4 linked regions of the Homo sapiens genome follow. The protein of the gene in region 4 purifies or fractionates together with the protein of the main gene of each other region. This does not show direct contact. Each region holds a gene or a part of one and is shown on either strand. Other genes may lie near its edges. The genes, in order: XRCC1, SEMA3C, COX18 and VNN1.

The links.
Region 1: the proteins of VNN1 (region 4) and XRCC1 purify together in Homo sapiens (affinity purification with mass spectrometry; one large-scale study listed by BioGRID and IntAct). This does not show direct contact.
Region 2: the proteins of VNN1 (region 4) and SEMA3C purify together in Homo sapiens (affinity purification with mass spectrometry; one large-scale study listed by BioGRID and IntAct). This does not show direct contact.
Region 3: the proteins of VNN1 (region 4) and COX18 purify together in Homo sapiens (affinity purification with mass spectrometry; one large-scale study listed by BioGRID and IntAct). This does not show direct contact.

Annotation. Positions count from the first base shown.
Region 1 is NC_000019.10:43,543,847-43,548,465, reverse strand, and holds part of XRCC1 (DNA repair protein XRCC1), read left to right. Parts: intron 1-1,488; coding exon 1,489-1,582; intron 1,583-1,738; coding exon 1,739-1,871; intron 1,872-2,359; coding exon 2,360-2,414; intron 2,415-2,508; coding exon 2,509-2,648; intron 2,649-4,231; coding exon 4,232-4,322; intron 4,323-4,619. UniProt on the Homo sapiens protein: Scaffold protein involved in DNA single-strand break repair by mediating the assembly of DNA break repair protein complexes. Negatively regulates ADP-ribosyltransferase activity of PARP1 during base-excision repair in order to prevent excessive PARP1 activity.
Region 2 is NC_000007.14:80,908,491-80,913,109, forward strand, and holds part of SEMA3C (semaphorin-3C isoform 2 precursor), read right to left. Parts: intron 1-4,619. UniProt on the Homo sapiens protein: Binds to plexin family members and plays an important role in the regulation of developmental processes. Required for normal cardiovascular development during embryogenesis.
Region 3 is NC_000004.12:73,062,619-73,067,237, forward strand, and holds part of COX18 (cytochrome c oxidase assembly protein COX18, mitochondrial), read right to left. Parts: intron 2,796-4,619; coding exon 2,632-2,795; intron 2,285-2,631; coding exon 2,160-2,284; intron 1-2,159. UniProt on the Homo sapiens protein: Mitochondrial membrane insertase required for the translocation of the C-terminus of cytochrome c oxidase subunit II (MT-CO2/COX2) across the mitochondrial inner membrane.
Region 4 is NC_000006.12:132,689,500-132,694,118, forward strand, and holds part of VNN1 (pantetheinase precursor), read right to left. Parts: coding exon 4,491-4,619; intron 3,817-4,490; coding exon 3,525-3,816; intron 3,086-3,524; coding exon 2,724-3,085; intron 1-2,723. UniProt on the Homo sapiens protein: Amidohydrolase that hydrolyzes specifically one of the carboamide linkages in D-pantetheine thus recycling pantothenic acid (vitamin B5) and releasing cysteamine.

The sequences.
Region 1 (4,619 bases), on a different chromosome or scaffold from region 4:
CATAGATTAACAGCATCCCAAGGCAGAAGAATTTTTCTTAGTACAGAACAAAATGAAGTCTCCCATGTCTACTTCTTTCTACACAGACACAGCAACAATCTGATTTCTCTATCTTTTCCCCACCTTTCCCCCTTTTCTATTCCACAAAACCGCCATCGTCATCATGGCCCGTTCTCAATGAGCTGTTGGGTACACCTCCCAGACGGGGTGGTGGCCAGGCAGAGGGGCTCCTCACTTCCCAGAAGGGGCGGCCGGGCAGAGGCGCCCCCCACCTCCCGGACGGGGCGGCGGCCGGGCGGAGGCGCCCCCCACCTCCCTCCTGGAGGGGCGGCTGGCCGGGCGGGGGCTGACCCCCCCACCTCCCTCCCGGATGGGGCGGCTGGCCCCCCACCTCCCCCCCGACGGGGCGGCTGGCCCCCCACCTCCCTCCCGGACGGGAACCTGCTACTGTTGTTAGAGCTAGGAAAATCCTTTTCCTGGAATGTTAGTGGCTTAAGGAACCATGATTATAGTGTTGTAGTCTTTAAAATGTGTTTGCTTTGAGATTTTCCCCTTAAATGGTGGGTATTTTCCTAATGAGAAACTGCCTTTGATTCTTAAAGGAGAAAGTTCTGATTTTTCATTCCTTTCTGAATTGAGACATTTCTTCCCCAAGAGGGAGGGGAATTCTGGGTACTGTGGTTCATGCCTGTAATCCCAGCACTTTGGGAGGCTGAGGTGGGTGGATCACTCGAGGTCAGGAGTTCGAGACCATCCTGGCCAACGTGATGAAACCTCGTATGTACTTAAAAAACAAAACAACACAAAAAACACAAAATTAGCCAGGCGTGGTGGCACATGCCTGTAATCGCAGTTACTGGGGAGGCTGAGGCAGGAGACTCGCTCGAACCCTGGGAGGTGGAGGTTGCAGTGAGCCAAGATCACGCCACTGCACTCTATCCTGGGTGACAGAGTGAGATCTTGTCTAAAAAAAAAAAAAAGCGGCCAGGAGTGGTGGCTAACGCCTGTAATTCCAGCACTTTCAGAGGCTGACGGGGGCAGAGCATGAGGTCAGGAGATCGAGACCATCCTGGCCAACATGGTGAAACCGTGTCTCTACTAAAATACAAAAAGTTGGCGGGGCATGGTGGTGTGCACCTGTAATCCCAGCTACTAGGGAGGCTGAGGCAGGGGAGTCGCTCGAACCTGGAGGCAGAGATTGCAGTGAGCCGAGATGAGGCCACTGCACTCCAGCCTGGCGATGGAATGGACTCTGTCTCAAAAAAAAAAAGAGGGAGGGGAAGAAAGGGGGTACCCAGGTCTGCAGGGCAGGTGGCCAGACTGACTGGGTTCACTGGGGCCTTCCTGAGCTGGGAGAGAATGGGCTGGGAACAAGACCATGAGGCCCACTAGAGTGAGTATTTTAGTAAATGCCAATGGCTGTTGCCTCCTGAACGCCCTCCCCACTTCCCTTGGGCCTGTTTGTCTGAGGCCCGATTTGTCCCCTAGGTACCTCATGGCAGGGCCAGGTTCCAGCAGTGAGGAGGATGAGGCCTCTCACAGCGGTGGCAGCGGAGATGAAGCCCCCAAGCTTCCTCAGAAGGTCTGATGCCCCCTGTCCAGTGGGGGAGGGTGTAGTGGGAGGATGACATGAGTCCGCTGTGGCACCCCAAACTTCCCACTCTTGCCTCTTGCAGGTACCCCCCCAACACACCCACACTGTTCCTGCCCTCCTCACCCACCCACTCTCCCTCCTTAGCAACCCCAGACCAAAACCAAGCCCACTCAGGCAGCTGGACCCAGCTCACCCCAGAAGCCCCCAACCCCTGAAGAGACCAAAGCAGCCTCACCAGTGCTCCAGGAAGATATAGACATTGAGGGGGTACAGTCAGGTCAGACTCTGAGGGAGGAGGGGCTGGGGCCTGGGCTCCTGAGTCTGAGGGAGGAGGGCCTGCGGCCTGGGCTCCTGAGTCTGAGGGAGGAGGGGCTGGGGCCTGGACTCCTGAGTCTGAGGGAAGAGAGCCTGGGGACCTGGACTCCTGGGTCTGAGGGATGAGGGGCTGGGGGCCTGGACTCCTGGGTCTGAGGGAGGAGGGGCTGGGGGCCTGGGCTTCTGGGTCTGAGGGAGGAGGGGCTGGGGGCTGGACTCCTGTGTCTGAGGGAGGAAGGGCTGAGTCCTGGACTCCTGGGTCTGAGGGAGGAGGGGCTGGGGCCTGGACTCCTGGATCAGAGGGAGGAGGGGCTGGGGGCCCAGACGACTGGATCTGGAGGGCAGTTGAGGCTGGGGGCATGAGATGCCTGGGTCTGTGCCATACTGGGAGAGCTGCCAGTCTTCCCAGGAGACAAGGCAGCCTTGCATTGACTGAGCTTCTACTTGCAGAAGGACAGGACAATGGGGCGGAAGATTCTGGGGACACAGAGGATGAGCTGAGGAGGTAGGGCTGGGGCTGGGGGTTGGGGTGTCCCTGGCCTTGGGTGTAGGGGAGGCTGCTCTGCATGCTCACTCTCTACTCCTCTTGGCACCCCCAGGGTGGCAGAGCAGAAGGAACACAGACTGCCCCCTGGCCAGGAGGAGAATGGGGAAGACCCGTATGCAGGCTCCACGGATGAGAACACGGACAGTGAGGAACACCAGGAGCCTCCTGATCTGCCAGTCCCTGAGCTCCCAGGTGGGAAATCCCCCCATCCCTCCTGAAGTGGCATTTTCTCTTCTCAGTTCTCAGCTGGGACTTGCCCTGGCCAGCCCTGGGGTCACTGCTGCCCCCGTGTCTTGCCTCCCCTCTCCTTCCTCAACCCACTCCCTGCCTCAGCACCTTCAGGTTCTGCCAGGCTTGTTCCTTTCCTTTCAGCATCCTCTCTGTGACTTGCCTTTTTCTCCCCTCCAGATTTCTTGTTCTGACCACTCCCCTCGCAGCCATGTGCCAGGTGTGACCTCCTTTTTTTCACGTCAGGGGTGAGGGCCCCACCCTCATGCTAGTGCTTCACTTGCTCAGGTGCCGTTCTGTTGGTCTGGGGTGAAGCCGGGCACACCAGGTGACAGGGGCACTGCTCTCTGTCAGGCCCTGGGTGGGTGCACACCAGTGTCTGCTTTAACATCAGCCATCACTCTGGACGTGGATGCTGTCTGCACACATTGTGTGTTTGCATTTCCAGTGTAAAAGAATAAGAACAAAAGGAAATGGGGAAACTCTGCAGGGAGTTGTGGGATGAGGGGCAGGGAGGCAGAGCTTCTTCGAGAATGAAGGGAGCAGAGGAAAGACAGTCACGGGCTGTGCAGAGGTGTGGTTCTGGGGCTTCCAGAAGAGCCGTTTCCACCCAGTTCCTCGTGGGTGATGGGCAGGAAGATGCTTTGATTCTCCCAAGCCCCTAAAGTGGCATCAGCAAATTGATGGCCTAGAGAGTCACCTTAAAATGGAAAGAAGGAGCCACCCCAAAGGTCAGAACAAGAAAGGCACTGGTTGGAAAGGAGAGCAAAGGTGAAGAAGTGGCAGATACTGACGTTTTCAGCCTGGACTAAGCTCATTAAGTGGCTCCAGGCAGGCCAGGCGTGGTGGCTCACCCCGTACTTTGAGAGGCCGAGGTGGGAGGACTGCTTGAGTCCAAGAGTTCAAGACCAGCCTGGGCAACATAGTGAGACCCCCCCCGACCCCCGCCTTTACAAAACATTTTAAAAATTAGCCGAGCGTGGTGGTGTGCTACTCAGTAGTCCTGGCTACTCAGGAGGCTGAGGTGGGAGGATTGCTTGAGCCCAAGAGTTTGAGACCAGCCTGAGCAACATGTCAATACCCCGTCTCTCTACAAAAAGTTTAAAAATTAGTCTGGCTTGGTGGCATGCACCTGTAGTCCCAGCTACTGGGGAGGCTGAGATGGGAGAATCACTTGAGCCCAGGAGGCAGAGGTTGCAGTGAGGCAAGATCACGCCACTGCACTCCAGCCTGGGCGACAGAGTGAGTCCTTGTCTTAAAAAAAAAAAAGAGAGAGAGAGAGGTAAGTGGCTCCAGCCTGTCGGTCAGAAACAAATCACAATAATAGGCATTGTATCTTCTACCATTAAAGCAAACCAACCAACCAACCAACCTACCTCCCCAGGAGGCTCTGATGGGCCGCTGGGCAGGGTCCACTGCCTGCCATCAATCCCTGCCCACATGTGGACAGCCCTCTCCTCAGCTGCTGGGTCAGCCTCGTCACTCCTGTTTGGTGCCTGGGAACTCCTGGGGCCTCATGCTTACCTTAGCCCCCTTCTCTCCTGCAGATTTCTTCCAGGGCAAGCACTTCTTTCTTTACGGGGAGTTCCCTGGGGACGAGCGGCGGAAACTCATCCGATACGTCACAGCCTTCAATGGGTGAGTCTCCAGGGACTGGGGTGGGGAAGGGGTGATGGATCCAAGGGAACGCTCAGGGACCTGCTGGGAGGGGTGGGGGTGTGGGAAAGAAGACCATCAGGAGGATGGAGAAGGGCCATGCCCAGCAGGTGGGCACAGGTCATGGAATCCGAATGCTAGCTTGCCCACCACCGGCAGCCCAGGGTGCATTGCTTGCCTCAGTTTCCTCTTCTGTATGGCGAGGATCCCTACCCCTACCCCTGCTTCTGAAAGGGACAGCCTGAGGATTAGCCACTGTGGGAGCTCTGGTCATTGTGG
Region 2 (4,619 bases), on a different chromosome or scaffold from region 4:
GGCAACTGACGCTAACTATAGTAACACTAGCAACTTGGGTTGCAAGACTTCGCTGGCTGGAAAAAAAGAAAAGCAGGCGTAGAGAGCAAATTTAGGTACTTATCTTATTGATGCTTTACATATTATGTGCCCCATTGACTCCCTTTACATCCCCGTTATCTGTGCTAGGGATGGATTACTTCCTTTTTGCGGGTTGCTATTCAACAACTCATTTTGTTCTCACTATCACCAGCTGTCAGAAAAATGGGAGGGAGACAGGGCTCAAATTCACAAGTCACCAGAGTTTCTTGTCCTGGTCCTCAGCTTGCTTGCACTAAAAGCTGTCACTATATAAGTGTTACAATAATGTTTTAAGTAATAAAGTGTTCACCAAACTAATGATCCAATTATATAATTACAAATCTGTGGTTATTCATAAATTTAAAATAAGAAAACATATAAATAATGCATTTAAAATGATACCAGGAATACAACAGCTTTTTTCTGACTGAACAGTTTTTGTTATATGAATATACAAGAGAGTATACACTTAGGAAAGACTAAAACGGTATTCAAATATAATGTAATTTTACTCATAGACGATGTGAGTGTGTGTATGTGTGTGTGTGAGAGAGTTCTGCATTTATTTTTACTCAGATATATATCCTCTCTCCATAATTAATTCTATCTGTAGAAAGTCAAAATCTATAAGGAAATAAGTTTTTCCTAAAATAATTTAGAAGTTGCTTCTTCAGAGCTATTAATTCTACATAGAGTTAAGGTTTTCTTTCTGCTGGATCAACATTCTGTCTCCCTTCTCTGAGGAACAGAAATCTTCTGTAAAATTACATTGCTGTAACTCCCTGAGTTTATCTATTCCATATAGACTAGAGACTTTACATTAGCCATTATATTACAAATAAGGTTAAATATAAGAGCAATCTTGTATTCAAAATTCAAAGTCTGGTACCTGATCATTTTTATCAGAAAATAGTTGTACTAAGGTAGTAATTTAGAAATTAATTAGGTAGAATGTTTTATACTTTTATTATCAAGAATCTTAAATGCTAGCAAGCGTTAAAGTTGAGTAAGGCAAGAATATTTAGCATTTTCAGTGGCATCAGTTCAAACCAGAACATAAGATTACTTTAATGGATTTTTCACTCTAAGGCAATACATAAATGAGCAGAGTGGAATATTCTAGGGATTGACTAAGGGGAATATGGAATCCTGATGTACATAGCACATCAAACGAGCTCTTGATTACAAGAGCAGTAACTTGGGGAAGGAAAGACAAGACTAGTATGTTCATTAATTTGCATGAATTAGAGATAAATGAAAATATAAATTATTCTTATTTATGTATTGCCTCAATCTTCGCAAAGAGAATTGAGAGGCACTTAAAATATGGTGTTGAACAGATTTAAAGCCTGATATATAATGATCCTCAAATTACTGCTGAAAATCAGCAGTTAATTAAAAATGTAAGGTATGTTAAAGCTACAGTGTTGTACATACTTGGAGAAGAAATATCATGAAGCAAGTTGTTAATACTCATATTAATAGCCTTGCATTTCTGCAGATTTTGTAACATACATTTGCAGGGTATCTCTGATTCTATACAAGCACTGCTCATAATTAATTTTTCTCTTCTTATACCATTTTGTCTTCTAGTCTTGTCAATGCCACCATTAAGCTGTAGAACCTTAACCAAGAGCTTTAGCCTCCATGCCAATTTACTTCATAGGCATTCTATAATAAATTAAATAATAAGGGAATTATTTGAAAAGTAAAAAGCATTTTACAGAAGTAACATATCCCTATTGAGAGCTTAAAGACAGCTCATTCTCATTGGATAAGGAGGATGGGTTGAAATGATTGTTTCTGAAAAGCCTGCAATTTAAAACGTGGAACATACTTGCCATCTTTTACAGCTCAGCAAATTGTTTCATGGCTAGTGCTACCCTAAAATAGCACATGGCTCAGCACTTAGTTCTACCTTCCATGTGCCCTTCTTGCTAACTCATACTCTGAGCTACAGAACATCTTACCTTTCTGTTCCTTGCCTTTAAATGTGTTTTCCTTAACAACAGAGGTCTTCAGTAATATATAAATGAAAATGCAGAAGGCAAAAAAGTGCTGGAATCTGCCCAAAGCTCACAGCTCTATTTCCCAATGCTCGTTCTTTTTTTTTTTTTTTTTAACAGTAATGGAACTAAAACCAAAGTGATAGTTCTTTATTATAGCAAAGTGATAGTTTTTTTATTTAAAATAAGTTATTTTTTACAACCTCCTTATATAAAAGATGTTTATGAAAGAAAAAATTGAGTGTGTCTCGGTGCCATTTTTTTAATGCAATGAATGATATCCATGAAAAAGAACATCTGAATCTTTTGTTTTAAAAGACAGTGCAAGGTATAGTGAATTTATGGAGATACATCCTGATAAATTTGCATAATGAAATGAGGAGAGTGTATAATAATTTTTTTCTACTGTTATCCATCTAAGCACTGACTTGCTCGCATAGGCACAAAGGGAGATCTCAGTTACAGCAACAAAATAAACATGTTCCAGAGAGGTAATTCCCCTCATCTTCACCTTGATGAATCATAAATTAAAGGGGGAATTTGGGATGATATAGGGAATGAATTTTATTTCATTTTCAGGCAGGTTTGATGTTCTAAGAGCAATGTAAAATTCTAGCATGACATAGTTAACATGATATGTTTACAGAATATCTTACTGAGAAAAATTCTTTTCCTTTTTCCTTTCATTGTGATCTTTGTGGATCTTAAAACTAATTCTCATGGCAGCTACAGAAATGGCTGCCACAAAGTCAGTATTAATGTTAGTGTTTAATTGCCAAAACTATTTTAGAAACAAAGAAGACAAAAAGTAGTATACACCTAGGAAGAATGCGAAAATGTATAACTTTGGTTCTAGATATATCTTCTGAATCAAAATTGCAAATAAAGGCTAAGTAACATCGTTTTATCAATATATGTGAACAACATATCAACATATATGATCAACATGTGAACAAATTTAAAATAAGCTATCTAGGATCACTTGCACCATCTTCATTTGATAAAGAGTTCAATTTAGTAAACATGTTTAGGCATGTCTATTAATTCATAGAATAGGACCTTTTTTTTTTTTTTTGAAAGAGAGTCTCACTCTCTTGCTCAGGCTGGAGTACAATGGCTCAGGCTGGAGTACAATGGCACGACCTCGACTCACTGCAAGCTCTGCCTCCCGAGTTTATGCCATTCTCCTGCCTCAGCCTCCCGAGTAGCTAGGACTACAGGTGGCCACCACCATGCCTGGCTAATTTTTTGTATTTTTAGTAGAGACGGGGTATCACCACGATAGCCAGCATGATCTTGATCTCCTGACCTCGTGATCCACCCGCCTTGGCCTCCCAAAGTGCTAGGATTACAGGCGTGAGCCCCCGTGCTCGACCACATTTTTTTTTAATGGAACCGCTGTGTTCGTATGACCGATTAACAAAACACTCAAGCTCACTCTTCTAACTTCAGAACACTAAAGCATTCCTTCTTTGCTCCCAATTGTAGGAACCTTGTAACTCTGAATGGCTTAACACAGAATATCATTTATTGGCAACAGAATCAAGCTTATTATAATCTGATGAAACTCACCTGGAACAGTAATTACTTTTTTAAACAGGAAAATATAGGCTTACACATTTTTCTAAAATTTTTTCTCTAGGAGAAATCCACAGCATATCAATGTAACACCTTTTATCCTAAAATTTTCAAGAGATGTTCTTTGCAATACCTGAAATAAAATTTCCTCCCTCCAATTCAAGTCTACTAGAAATATTATTTTATTTTGATTACCAGAGCCCTATATCAATACATATTACAGGGGAAAATAGACATACGAGGCTACATTTCTTAGCAATTCTTCTCATCTTCCATTGCAATTGTATTTTATAACAGTTTTTACCTTGCTGCTTTACAAATTTAGTGTTACTCTATTCTAGACTCATGTTTCAGGTAATGTCCAACTCACAAGTGAATTCATCAATCCTTTGCTGAGTTCAATTAAACTCTCACAAGGGGGAGAGTAGAAGGAACTTTTTATTCACAGAGCACCCCTTGAGTTTGGGTTTACTAAAACACTCATGTGTGCTTCAAGATATTTCAGTGACATTTAATTGAAACCATCATAAGGAGACTTAAAAGAAAATGCCATAACACACACCTGAGAACTAAATACTTCTCAGTAACACAAACCTGAGAAGATTCAATACACCCAGAGTAAGCATCTTCCAAGATTAACGGAGAAATCAAGAACAACTGCTTTTATTTTCATTTCTTGGGCAACCACAACAAAAACTATTTCAACAAACGTGCCTTGTAATGCTAATGCTACCAGAGCTCATAAAGAGGCAATTTATTATTTTCAGTTTATTGTCCAATAACAATTCATCAGCTTTGGGGCTTAGTTCATTAGTTCACAGGGATTCTTTTATTTGTTGAGGGTGATTTTAAAAGATGTTTTATAAAATTCCATAGTCTTTCATTTACATACTATCAAAGACCTGGAGACTTTGGCAGCTTTATTACTAAAAATTCAGCACACACAAAAGGGAAAATGAATCACAAAGTAAATAA
Region 3 (4,619 bases), on a different chromosome or scaffold from region 4:
AGGAGTTTGAGACCAGCCTAGGCAATTAGGCAACATAGCGAAACCATCTCTACAGAAAATACAAAAATTAGCTGGGCGTGGTGGCATGTCTGCAGTCCCAGCTATTCAGGAGGGAGGCTGAGGTGGGAGGATCGCTTAAGCCTGGAAGGCACAGGTTGCAGTGAGCTGAGATCACGCCACTGCACTCCAGCCTGGGTGACAGAGTAAGACCGTCTCCAAAAAAAAGAAAAGAAGGAAAAAAAAAAAAAGACTTCTCCATAATTATGACTCTAGAGCCAAACTACGTAGTTTTACATTTTTATGCCTCACTTTCTCTGCATTAAAAAAGGATAATATTTAGCTCACAGGGTTATTCCAAGAAGTAAATGAGTTGATTTATGTAAATTGCTTATAACAATGCCTATGGCCAGGCACAGTGGCTCACACCTGTAATTCCAGCACTTTGGGAGGCTGAGGCGGGCGGATCATTTGAGGTCAGGAGTTCCAGACCAGCCTGGCCAACATGGTAAAACCCAGTCTCTACTAAAAATACAAAAAATTAGCTGGGTGTGTTGGCGGGCGCCTGTAATCCCAGCTACTCGAGAGGCTGAGACAAGAGAATCACCTGAACCTGGGAGGTGGAGGTTGCAGTGAGTGGAGATCACACCACTGCACTCCAGCCTAGGAAACAGAGTGAGACTCTGTCTCAAGAAAAAAACAAACAAACAAACAAACAAAAAACACAATGCCTTGCACATAGTGTATGTTGAGTAAGAATAAGCTTTTAATAAGCTTTTATTTTTCTTTTAGAGGTGAGGTCTTTCTCTCTGTCGCCCAGGCTAGAGTACAGTGGTGGGATCACAACTCACTGCAGCCTCCATCTCTTGGGCTCAAACAATCCTCCTGACTCAGCTTCCAAGTAGCTGGAACTAGAGGCGCACGCCACCATGCCCCGCTATGAAAACACCTTTATTAGTCTTTAGATGACATAGAGGAAAAGACTAGGGGATTGACATTGATTCACTGTAACCTTGTGCTTATCACTTCCTTCTTTCTACCAAATATTCACTGAACACCAACCACAGGGGACTGTGCTAGTGCTCTTAGGGAAACATATTTGGACTACAGGTAGAGTCTTTCCTCAAGAAACTTTCACTTAAGACCTTATATTCTATCATCTCCATTTTCCTCATCTGAAAGAATAAGGGGTATATTAGATTTCACAAACAGGCATCAGAGGTCATGAGGTCTGGGAGATCTCTACTGAGGTAAATCATTTTTAAGATTTCTTCCAGTCCAGTCTGTTCTACTCAGAGTCTGAGAACAATTTATGAAATTATATGCACGCTTTCCCTAAACTGCTGAGTAAAGCAGCCTGTGATAAGGGTTAAGACATGACTGAGAGGGCTGGGCACAGTGGCTCATGCCTGTAATCCCAGCACTTTGGAAGGCCAAGGCGGGTGGATCACCTGAGGTCAGGAGTTCGAGACCAGCCTGGCAAACATGGTGAAACCCTGTCTCTACTAAAAATACAAAAATTAGCCGGGTGTGGTGGTGTGCGCCTATAATCCCAGCTACTCAGGAGGCAGAGGTTGCAGTGAGCCAAGACTGCGCCATTACACTCCGGCCTGGGCAACAAGAGCAAAACTCCATCTCAAAAAAAAAAGAAAAAAAAAGACATGACTGAGAGGTCACATTTTCTATGTGTATGTTTTTCCCATTTCATCTTATAAAGACATTCAATGACTTTTCTAAGGTCATAAAGCAAGAAAATAGCAGTCAGGGCCTGACTTGTGTTCTCCGCCTACAAATTCACATATTAAACACACACACGGAACATCACTCTATTTTAAGAATACAACCAGATTGACTGGGCATCTTTATTACTGTTTTTGCCAAAAGCAAGTCACAAAATTCTATGTATCAGAATCATATAATTTTGAAGCTGAAAGAGACTTGGAAGTATACTAGTGCTTTTACTTTAATTTCGAGAGTTCTGAGGCCCAGAGAGGTTAAGGGACAGGCCTAAGCCAATGCCTGACGTGGAACCAGGAACCAAGGGATCTCACTTCTAACTCAGAGCTATCTTCACCAACTCAAACAAAAACAGATTTGAAGTCAAAACAGCAGCAACAAAAATCCCCATAAATGGCAAACAAATTTCATTTAAAACTACTGACCTCCACTATTAACAAATTGATGACGCCAACAGAGATAGGCAGAATCCAAGTGGAGTCGGGTGCAGTGAGGTCAGGAAACCACAGAATTCCACCAGTAGCTAACTGTTCCTGAACAGAAAAACCTGCTAAAACAGTTTTATAAATAAAACAATAGAAGTCCTAAAAATAGCAGAGAAAAATATATAAGACATAAATAAGTAGTCTGACAATTCCAATAAGGTGTCCCTCACAGGAAAGATCTGCACTGGATTTATTCCAGTTTTTCACGCACAATATATATATTTTTTCTCAATACAAAATGTTCACAACACAACCAATCTGTTTACACTTAAGACTTTAAATTCTATACCCTTATAAGGAAGATAGTAAACATATCGTAATTATGAAAAGTATGCTTTTTTTTTTTTTTTTTTTTTTTTAGTACAAAGACAATGTTAGAGAACTTCTTTGGGAGAAGACATACAATAATTACCTTCTGAATGTGCTGCCCCCGTGCTTAAATTCCGGAGAGCAAAAGACATGAAGATCCACATTGGAAGCTGAATCCAAACCAACACAGTGGCTTTGAAAGGGTGGCAGTTATCTCGCACATATAGCTCTGAAATTAGCCTCCTCATATTCTTTAGATAAGTGAGCCTAGATTGAGGTTAGGGGGAAAAAAGGGGAAAGAGAAAATGTCATCTAAGAATCGTGCTTTATTTCCATAGCACAAATAGCGCCTGCTGTAGTTATTAGCTAAAGGATTTGTATAAGGGTTTCAGCTGTCACAGGCATGTTAAGGAGTTGCCTAAACAACAGGCAAATAAAGCCTTTTATCAAAACTTCTACAGTATGGTACACAAGTTACATAACAATCTGAAATTGTCAGACTACAGGCTTTGTCTCTGGTGGTCTTTGGCTGATTAGGCTTTAAAGGTAAATTTCACTACTGACATGGTATAACTACAATTAATATTGGAAATATGGAAGCTAAAAGCAAACTTTAATCAAATCTCTCCACTCCCGCCAAACTTAACCACTTCATCCCTGAATATACCTTTTGGAGCTATGTGGTTTTATACTGTGTATGCTCTTGGCCTGTCAAAATAGTCTCCATTTTTCAATCAACTATCTCACAAAGATATTTTTAATCTGTTTCTCTGTTAACCATATTAGTTACTACTGTTTTTTCCTGAAATTTTACTTTTTAGAATACAGTCTTCCTTCAGGTCCAAGAGAATAGGAGTTAAAAAACAAAAACTAAAGTATTCTTAGTTTAGGGGACAGTGTTCTATTTTATTCATCTTTAAATCTCCTGTATCATATATTTTGTACAGAGGAGGCATTCAATAGTTTTTCTGAATTTAGTCAAATTATAGTGTATAATAAGACAGTACACAAAGACATTCTAGGTCCTCCATAATTTCACATTTGCCTATTCTTCCAATTTTATCTCGTTACTCCTCTAGACACCTGCATATTCTGGTCTGAATGACTTTAGTTCATCCAACAAATCAGACTTCCGCATAGGCATGCCTTTGGAAGTACTGTATTATATCATCTGTGTGGAAAGCCCACTTTCCTGGCTGTCCATCTGACACACCGTCTTTTACCCTTCAAGACTCAATACTATTGAAAATGCAGGAAGCTGGCCAACACTGTGGCTTGCACTTGTAATTCCAGCTACTTGGGAGGCCAAAGTGGGAGGATTGCTTGAGGCCAGGAGTTTGAGATCAGCCTGCACAACACAGGGAGATTCTGTCTTGTTCAAAAAAACAAAAAAGAAAAGAAAAGAAAAGAAAATGCCAGAAGCCCTCAGATGTTTCCTCCTAGAAAGAAACATCTGTAAGGCTGTATCTGCACAACCATCCTGCCAGTACTGCTTAAGCAAGGTGCCACAAGTCTTATCTAGGCTGCGTTGATAACCCAGGCAAGCAGCTATTAATCTGGTTCTTTTGGCCTATGGCTGAAGCTTTCGACTTCTTTGATAAGTAAAATTTCAAACCTATAGGTCAACTTTTAATTTTTACCAAATAAAGACATTAAGCTATCACCACGATTTTTTAAAATGTCAGATCTTTTTAACACTAAATATAGGACACAATCTCGTATTAAAGATAGTTGGGAAATGTACAACTATATAAAAATATATGGTTAATAATATACACATAACACAGATTGATACCACAAAGGCCTTTTTCCATTGCTGTAAAAAGGAGAATAATTTTTCGCAGTCTAGTAAGGATTAGAGTTTGGGAAACTGATTGAGGAGTTGATTGAAGCAAGAGGGCTTGTAAGTTCCCAGTGAATGAATGCAGACATCCTTGGGCGCAATCAAGCACCCTTAGATTGGGACTTTCCAAGAACCCAGGCAGACAACTGCACAGAATAACCACAAAGGATAGACAGCATCTTAGCTATCAAAGTGTTTCTACTGTGGCACTTGTTTTCTACCTCCTCTTTCCTGTAGGCTATTACCTG
Region 4 (4,619 bases):
GTATTGTGTTAATACACCTCATGATTTCTTTCCTCCAAGAGTCTCTACTTCCTTGGCATCTACCAGATGTTCTCTTTTTAAATTTTCCTTTATTTCTTAATTGTATTTGCAGGTTTCTTGTCCTCTGTCCTTTCCTGCCCCAAATACCGAAGCTCCCAAAGGTTCTACTTTGTCAATAGTTCTTTACTGTCAGTACAGTCTCCTTTGTCGTATCATTCACTGTTGTTTGCTTAATTGCCCCTTGTATCTTGCTGATTTTTGAAACAATATTTCTAATTCTAGTATCTCCCTTAAGCATCAGACCAAAGTATTCAACAGACAACTGGCTGGGTCCAGCTGAATGTCTCATAACTACTTCAAAACCAGCACATCTATAACTGAACTCAGCCTCTACCCACTGTCAGTGAGTCTGCTCCTCTCTTGCCTCCTGATCTGTCAGATGCATCTCACCCACCCAGCCATTCTTGCCAGAAATCTGCCACATTCTGGACTCTCCATTCCGTTTTCCTGTTCCACATCAAATTGGCCACTGAGTTCCATTTTCTAAATATGTCTAGACTCCATGCCCTGCTTTTATTCCAACAAACACAGTCTTGGTCCAGACCCTTAATAAGACTATTTTAATAATCTAGTCTTTTGGGTCTTTGCTCCATCATCTACAGAGTAGTAAAAATGATATATTCAAAGGTAGATCTGACCACATCATTCCTTCACTGGACCACTTCCACCAGCTGACCATCACCCACAGAATAAAGGCTGAATCTTAAGTGTGCTAGGTAAGATCCTGCAGGACAGGATGTTGCTTCCAGGCTTATTTCCCACCAAACCCAGCTTCGCAAGCCATGCCTCAGTTGCCTTAGTAGCACTGACCTGTTGCTGTTCCCTGCAGACCCTGCTCCTGCCTGCATCCACACCCTTGTTCATGCTCTTCACACCACAAAGAATCCCCTCCTACTCTTTTTCACCTGGATAATAGCATCAGCTCCAGAAACTTCCCTGCATTCCCAAATTAATCTAAGTAGAGCTCTTTAGTACTCCTCCAGCAAAATGTGCATTCTACGGACAATCACATGCCAACCTATGCTGAAATTATCTGTTCAAATGTCTTTCTCCATTACTAAAGACTGAATTCTTCAAGAGGAGGATCTATGCTTATTTATCTTCATATCATTAACACTAAATAAATACCTGGCATATAGTAGGCCTTCATTTGCTAAAACGAAAAAGTATTGTTAGGGTAGTTATCATAGAGCAAACAAAATACTGTGCAGTTGGCATAATTTCAGCACTCAAGGGGTTCTCAGTCTCAAATAAGTAAGTGAATACTATGACATAATATGTCTTTGATAAAGCTAAGCATAGGGTGTCCTGGGAGCACATAAAGGATGTACTTAACTCATCTGGAGAGGTAGGAGTAGCTCTGTGGGAAATATCCAGGAACCCCTCTTGGTGACGATAACACCAGAAAAGTGCTATGAAAGATTAGTAGGTGGGGCTCGCCACGGATAAAGGACCAAACAATCTGTGCAAACACCTTGAGGTTCTGCATATGCTAGCAAATAGGAGATGGGAAAATATTTCAATATTGCAGAAGCCCAGGATATTTGTAAGTAGAAGTGAGATTAGAGGATAGAGAATAGGAAGGGACCACACATCTAGACTTTGTGTGTCTTTCATGTTAAGAAATTTGATTTGTCAATTAGAAGTCAGTGAAGAATTTTAAGCCAGACAGTATTATAATCAAAAACAGCTTTTTGTGATTTCTGTAACTACAATATGGAGAACTGACTGGATGGAGCTGAGATTGTCAGACTGTCAATAGGAAGCCCTGTTAAGTGAGATAAGATGGGGGCCAGACCAAGGAAGAGAAGAGAAGAATGAGAGGACCATGGAGGCCACTTGCGAGCAATGAGAGATTGGATCTTTGCAGCAATAAACCATTCCATTGAACTATCTTGGTGGTCAACCCCATTCATATCCAGGATATACTTAGTGTCAAACTCTTTATAAAGCAAGATAGGCATTTGTGAACATATAAGGAAAATGGCTTAATTTGTTCAGGCAGGAAATAAAATGGGTTTTCAATGAACTCCTGTTATAATGATCTGTAATTTGAATATTTATTTTTAATACTGCTACTGCAAGTAAATGTCCTGCCTTTTCCCAATCAGCTTAAAATTGAACTGACATCTAAGGTTTCAAGGTTTAGCAAATAGGCAGGGCACGGTGGCTCATGCCTATAATCTCAACACTTTGGGAGGCTGAGGTGGGCGGATCACCTGAGCTCGGGGAGTTTGAGACCACCCTGGCCAATATGGTGAAACTCTGTCTCTACTAAAATACAACAACAACAAAAAAATTAGCCAGGCATGGTGGCACTCGCCTGTAGTCCCAGCTACTTGGGAGGCTGAGGCGTGAGAATTGCTTGGCCGAGGAGGCAGAGCTTGCAGTGAGCTGATGCACCACTGCACTCCAGCTTGGGCTACAGAGTGAGACTCTGTCTCAAAAAAAAAAAAAAAAGATTTAGCAAATAAATTTAGCCTGTATTTGTAGGCTTCCCAGCTAAAGTTGAATTTCAAATAAACAACAAAATTTTTAGCATACATAAATCCCCAAAAGTGTGATATGCTTATACTAAAAAATCATTCATTATTTATCTAAACTGTATATTTAACTGAGTGTCTTTATTTTATCCAGTAACTCTTCTGACATCAAAATATTACCTGTAGATAATAGCGCCCTTCCACAGTGTGCAGTCCGTCAAATGCCCCTAGAGCGTACACTTCATTTGGTATGTTCTCAGACATTTTGTAGCTTAAATGACAGCAGAGATCTTTCTGACAAACTGTATAATTTCCTGCAACTCCTGTGAGCTTCACAAAAGTGAATTCATCGAAAAAGACAGTGCCTTTAAATTCCTTGTTTCCTGATGAGAGCGCTTCTATACTGCTGGCATAGGAAGTCCAGTTCACCACTGCAGAATGGGATGGGTGGGAATCCAGTTGCGAGAGGAGGAGTTTTCCCTCTTCTGTCTTCATATCATAATGAAATGCTCTTGAAGAATTGGGTGCATAGATGCCACTTCCTGGAAGTAATAAGTTGAAAACATCATTTGAAATTGGAAAGTAAAAAGGGATTTCATAATTGTTATTACTATTTTAACCTCATATTCACATTTTACTCTCTCTAAGTTATATGTTTTATTAATTTCAGTAAAACATGCTGATAAAGACAGAGAAGTGAGAGGAAATCAATTAAAGTATGAAACCAAGAAGCCAAGAAGGGAGAGTTGTATGTAAGAAGTCATATATTTTGAAAAAAAAATCAAGTTAAATAAAACCAAATAAATCTACAAAACAATTTAGACTGAGATTGATTCTATAGCATATTAACAGCTAGATGTTCAAAAATTAAGAGCTGGAAAACATTGTATTAAGGAGTATGCGTTAGCTAGAAAAACATGTTTTTTTTTTCTTTTCTTTTCTGATTACATCAGCCTGCATATCTTTAAGATCACACATTACCTGTCATTTTCTTTGAGGGGTAATGTATGTTGGATGCAAGGAAATTGACCCTCATGCCCATAGCCCAAGCTGAGTGGAATTCAACAGCTGACAAATGTGGCAAAACATTCATCCAAGCTGTTGGGAATACTATGGTGTCCACGTGGAAATCTTTCACCAAGGTAACAGCAGGATCATGGAAGAGTATATCAAAGCATGTGAAAATGCCAAAACTTCCAAAGGTGGTATTGAAAGTCACAATCTCAGGCTCCTTGGGTACATTGAATTGATTTTCACCCATGAAAAGGTTTTGCTGCAATAAACAGAAGATAAAGAGAAAAAAATTATTTTAGGAAGTTGATCTGGACATCACAGTGTGGGAAAAAGTACAAGCTCACATCTTAGTGCCAATTTCATCTATGATCAGTGTTTTCATGGGAAATGAGTTTGCTTTAGAGAATCAGAGGCCATTCTAGCTAAACTGGGCCTTTAGTTCAGTCTCCACATTACAAATATGTACATGGGTATCTTTATCTATAAAGACCCACTGGAATCTTATAAGACATAAAATAGATTACTTCTGTTTGCCAAGTAGACTTAACTGTTTTCCTTGGCAAGGAACTTTGTTTGTTCCATTCTCCTCAAGACAGAGTCTATGTGGTAAGCAGTTTTTCATTCTAGCCTTGACCCATTGCCAGGGTATGCCTTTAAAAGGACAAAGTCCAAAAGGCAACATTAGGCAACATAATGCATGCGGCACTTTCTGACTGCTACACACTCCTGAAAACACACTCCTGTGTTCTTATATGTACACGGAACCCCTTAAGCCTCTTTATAGGAGCTTTCCACGCTTTATCATTACTTTCTATGCTTTGCCCCTACTCGATTTCTAAAGTGTGCTTATCATTATCAATAACATATTTTTCTCCTTGCCCACTTTATTTCATTAGGCATTAACTAATTGGATTATTTGCAAATTAATTTTACCTTATGGTAGCGTGCCACCAGTTTTCCTTGAGAATCAAATACCACATCAGTGTTGTATTGGTAACGGCCATCAGGGGGACACTGAGGATCACTGGTATCGCATGGCTTCTTGTCCCCAATATTTGCCAC